Linked DNA regions of Homo sapiens: region 2 is linked to region 1. A link means that fine-mapping ties the variant in region 1 to the expression of a gene that starts in the linked region. Tissue or cell type: whole blood. Region 1 holds a variant in brackets; the other region holds the start of a gene. All regions are shown on one strand. Distances are from middle to middle.

Region 1 (2,682 bases):
AATCCAGACTCCTTAGCTAGCTCCATGAGGTCTTCTGTGATCTGGTCTTGGCCAGCGACCTCTTGTCGTTGTTTTAAACCCTGTCTGGAATGTCCTTCCTCCTTCCCTTCCCATGGTGATGCCTACTCATCCTTCAGTGAGACCTAGGTCCTCAAACAATGCTCCTAAATGGAGCCTTCTTCCACCCTGCTTCACCCAGGCTGACTAAGCAGCCTCTTTGACTGTACTGGAGCATGGTGTCTTGTGTCCTTGCATCACGGCATTAATCTCATCCTCCTAAAATGAAGTGTTACGGGTCTGTCTTCCAAAGCTCCAGAGGAAGAGTCAGACCTGAGTAAATCTTTTTCACTTATTAGCTGTGTGGTCTTAGGCTAATTATTTAGCTGCTGTGAAACTGTTAATCTGTAAAATGTGAATACTACCTTCTGAGAATTTGTTCATTCAGAAACTTTTTTTTGTTTTTTGTTTTTTTTTTTGAGAGGGAGTCTCGCTCTGTCACCCAGGCTAGAGTGCAGTGGCACAATCTTGGCTTACTGCAACCTCCGCCTCCTGGAATCAAGCAATTCTCTCTCCTGTTTCAGCCTCCCGAGTAGCTGGGATTACAGGCGTGCACCACCATGCCTGGCTAATTTTTATATTTTTAGTAGAGATGAGGGTTTCACCATATTAGACAGGCTGGTCTCGAACTCCTGACCTCAAGTGATCTGCCTGCCTCGGCCTCCCAAAGTGCTGGGATTACAGGCGTGAGCCACCGTATGTGTCCAGGAAGTGCTTATTGACTGCCTGCTGTGTGCTAGGTTCTCTGTTGTCAGTGATCAGCAAACATATTTCCTGGTTTTAGGGCAGATAAGTTAGTAAGCTATCACGTTGGAGAGTGTTACATGTCATGACAGTGGTAAACACTGAGTGCTGTAAGATCTTGTATGTAGCATGAATTAGATACCCAGATGGTCACTTAATAAATTAATGAATAAATTAGCAAATGCAGAAACAAACCAACAGATAAACATAAGAAAAACTCAAGTATCAGCCATAGAAAATACTTTGAATCCATGTTTTGAGCTGCTTTTCAAAAATAGTTTTGACCTTTTTTTCAGAGTTTTATTCTCACATCTGCAGTATCTTGGCTTAAATGCTGCTGTTCTCTACTAAATTTGTTTACCTGGTAAACCATGGGGGTAAAACACTCTTTTGTTGAATAAACTCTTCTGTTTATTTCTTTGAAGATGCAGACAGTGGAGGAGATAGTCAGGAAGAGAGTGAGCTGGATGACCAAGAAGAACCCCCATTTGTGCCTCCTCCTGGATACATGATGTATAC[T/G]GTGCTTCCTGATGGTTCTCCTGTACCCCAGGGCATGGCCCTGTATGCACCACCTCCTCCCTTGCCAAACAATAGCCGACCTCTCACCCCTGGCACTGTTGTTTATGGCCCACCTCCTGCTGGGGCCCCCATGGTGTATGGGCCTCCACCCCCCAACTTCTCCATCCCCTTCATCCCTATGGGTGTGCTGCATTGCAACGTCCCTGAACACCATAACTTAGTAAGTGGAAAGACATACAACTCTCTTTCCACACTGCTTCCATGGGTGACTGATAAGGTTATATACTTAATGAGTTGACCTATTTATGACTGGATTATATGGCAAAGTGTGTTTGTAAGGCTGATGTTTAGAACTGTGCAAGCATTCTCTTATTAAAATTCTCTTATAAAAGCAGTGGCATGTGCCTATAATCCGAGCTACTCAGGAGACTGAGACAAGAGGATTGCTTGAGCCTAGGAATTCAAGGCCAGCCCCGGTAACAGCAAAAAACAAAAACCAAAAAAACAAAAATACCATGTACAGGAGTTAGGGTCTCAGGCCAGTCTACAAACCTGGGTTAGCCATTTAATAACAAATGTTTTCAGTCCAGAAATTTACCGTTTTTACAAAGCTTATGTATTTTTCTATTGACAAGTGTTATATTAATGTGTATGTATATATTCACTTACTAGTGCCTGTACTTGTACACATACATATATGTATAATATGAGTGTATACACATGTATGTGCACGTGTATGCACACAGGTATGGACAGCATACAGTAAGGTTTTGGTGGGGATTATCTCTAGGTAGGATTTATTTATTATTTATTTTCATAGTTTATATTTCGGTGGGGATAAGGTTTTGGGGATTATCTCTAGGTGGTGGGATTTATTTATTATTTTCATAGTTTATATTTTATTGTACACAATATTTTGTATTCTGTTTTTCCTACTTAATGTTATAAGCATTTGTCCATGGTTTTACAAATGTCTTTAAACAATATTTTAATGACTGTACAACATTTCTATATTTGTAGGTACTGTAGCTGACTGTAAATTCTTACTGTATCTCTTAGGCTAGATTCTAAGAAATAATTATTTCCTAATTACTAGATTACTTCCTTTTTCTTTTTTCTTCTTCTTTTTTTTTTTTTTTTTTTTTGAGACGGACTTGTTCTCTTTCGCCCAGGCTGGAGTGCGGTGGCGTGATCTTGGCTCACTGCAACCTCCGCCTCCCGGGTTCAGGCAATTCTCCTGCCTCAGCCTCCCAAGTAGCTGGGATTAGAGGCATACGCCACCACGCCTGGCTAATTTTTATATTTTTAGTATAGATGGGGGTTTCACCATGTTGGCCAGGCTGGTCTCGAACTCCTGACCTT
Region 2 (2,682 bases), 350 kb after region 1:
ACAGGACAGAGTTGAAACTTCTGGACTGGGCAATCCCTAGGGACTCGTTCAGCTCTGCCTTATTCAGTCATTGAGCACCTGTTACATGTAAATGAGATAACTTAGATCCACATGCTGCCCCCATCTGGTAGAGGAGGCAAAATTCACCCAGATGTAACTCCGAAAGAGGTAGAAAGTGCCTGATGTAGTCAAAGAAGCACAGAAATGCAGCAGAATAACCCTGTCCTCCACACCCCCCACTCCCAGAGCCCTCCTTCGCCATGCACTTGCATTTCCTTACTCAGAGACTGGAAGGAAGGTCTCCAGTAGTATCCTTATTTCACAATCGGGGAAACTGAGGCTCTGTCTGGGAAGGTGGTTCCTTACTGGCAGCAAGCGGCAGGCCAGGGCTGCACCCTACATCTCCTGCTTCCTCAGACACGCCTGTTTCCAGGTAAAGGAAGGAGGCAGCCCGGCCTGCTCAGGAGCCCGAAGGAGTGCAAAGGAAGAGCAAAGCCTCAAAACACCTGCCTCGGGTCTCGGTTCCTTCCTGCCGGAGGAGCGGCTCTCACACCCTCCGCGCCTCCCAGTCCCTCCCGGCCGCCACAGCGGGAAGATCGAGGAATCTCAAATCCCTCTGCTTCTCTGGCTCTTTGCGCGCTGACATTTTTTTCTTCTTCTTTTTACTGTTTTTTTTTTTTTTACTTTCTTCAAGAGTTTGTGCAATCATTGTGTTTAGCCGTTTTCCTGCCATTTCCAAACGCGGGGTGGTGTCCTTTTCGAGTAGGAGCAAGGTTTGAAGAGTTGGAGGAAACTCCCGCCTCCCATCGCCCCAGTGCTGCAGGCACCCCGGATGCCAAAGTTAGTGTCGGAAACTTTCCCCATGCTGGGCGTCTGACTGAGTCCTCGGCTCTCCGAAGCTCTCTGACATCTCCCTCTCTATTCCCTTCCTCCTTGGGGTTCCTGCGACCCTCACTTTATCCCCCCACTCCCAGATTCCCCTTCCCAGAGGCGCGCCCTTCCTATCTTGTCCTGGGCAAGAGCCATTCCTCTGTCCTGCCCCACAGGCAAGGACAGACCCCTCACTCACTGCGACTTACTTGGTCGCATCCTGTGTCCCCTGCGTCTCCCCTCTCTTCCCCCACCCCAACCCCGCGGACCCGTGGGGGAACCTCAGCTTGCAGCTCTTCAGGCTCCAGTCTTGGAAGGCTGGACAGAGGGAGGGACGGCCACAGGATGGGGACAGAGGGACAGAAACTGGGTCCGATTTGGCACCGAGGTAGCGACAAGAACAAAAGCAGGGACACAGGCAGGGCAGACACCGGGCAGCGCCGGAGCAGCGGCCCGCCTCCACTCCCTCACCACCCTCTCCCAAGCGCGGAGCCCCCCGTCCGTGTCCTGCTCGTGGCCTCCGGGGACCTGGGCGGCTCCCCGCGGGACCCACCTGATCCGCAGAACCAGGGCGCCGAGGGCCGGCGCGCGGTGAGCTGGGCTGAGCAGGACCGCGCCCAGCTCCCGGCCCCGGCGAAGCCCTACGCGCTCTGATCAGCCACCGCGCCGCCTCCGCCCGAGCGGAGGCGCGTCCTCCCGCCCGTGGGCCGGCCGGCCGGGCTTCTGCTCTGGGCAGAGCGCAGCGGGTAGGGGCGCGAGGAGCCGGCGAGCGCTGACAGCGGGCTGCGCCAAGCCGGTCCCCGCCCCGGACACAGACAGCTGGAAGGCCGGCGAGCGAGTGCGTGAGTGAGAGTGTGTGTGTGCCGGGGAGGCGGATAAAATCCCCGGTGAGAGTGGCTGGGCCTCTTTTGCCTTCTCGGGCCTGCACGTGGTGGTGGTGGTGTAGGTGATAGAGCAGGAACCCCGGGCGTTGGAGGATGGGGTGGGGTCTGTGCTGTGCTGCTGGGAGGGGCTGCGCTGCGCTGGCGCACGGCCAAACTCTGGGAAACTCAGAGCCTTGGAGATCTGATCCACCGTTTGTTTCCCGAGGAAGGAAGAGCGCGAATGTAGACAGCGGCAGGCCGGGGCTGGAGTCGCTCTTGCGAGAGTCCTGAGCTCTGGAAGTGAGGGCTGGGCGTTGGGCACCTGGTTCAGGGTCTGCCCGCGTTTGCGCACTGACTTCATGATCTGTGAGCCCAGAGTGTCTCAAACGGGGCTCTAAGGCAGCCCCTAGGCTGTGGAATAACTCTTTAGTAGAATTATGTAGAAAGGAATCCAAACATTCGATTTCAGAGTGTGCGCTTCTGTGCCCAGTGTGGCAGCAATTCACTCAGAGAGTTGCTGTGGCCACAACTGGCTGCCCTCAGTTCTCTTGTCTTATACTGATAGCGACAAGGTCTTCTCACTCCCGCTCATATCAATCTACTTTACAGGTGGAAAAGTCAGAACTTCATTTTGCCATTTGCCGTTGAACGTCATTTTCATAGACTAAGAAATTCGCTTCTTAAATAATTCGGCCGGGCGCGGTGGCTCACGCCTGTAATCCCAGCACTTTGGGAGGCCGAGGTGGGCGGATTGCTTGAGCTCAGGATTTCCAGACCAGCTTGGGCAACGTGGCGAAACCCCGTCTCTACAGAATATAGAAAAATTCCCCAGGCCTGGTGGCGTGCACCTGTAATCCCAGCTACTCGGGAGGCTGGAGACTGAGAAAGAAAAGAAAAAATAAAAAATAAATACAAATAAAAATCAAACTGCCAGGCCAGGCGAGGTGGT

The links. PIP is the estimated chance that this variant, and not a neighbour inherited with it, causes the effect.
Region 2: GGTA1 starts here. The variant in region 1 is fine-mapped to the expression of GGTA1 in whole blood (TOPMed, PIP above 0.99).

The regions. Positions count from the first base shown.
Region 1 is chr9:121,148,944-121,151,625 of GRCh38, forward strand. CNTRL (centriolin) reads left to right here. Exons shown (of 44, transcript NM_007018.6): 25 at 1,227-1,540. Among named protein-coding and RNA genes, the nearest start is that of RAB14, 52 kb to the right of the region's middle. The variant T/G (reference allele first, on the strand shown) is at 1,321.
Region 2 is chr9:121,498,227-121,500,908 of GRCh38, forward strand. GGTA1 (glycoprotein alpha-galactosyltransferase 1 (inactive)) reads right to left here and starts at 1,618. Exons shown (of 6, transcript NM_001382585.1): 1 at 1,424-1,618. RefSeq lists silencers at 1-218, 1,568-1,667.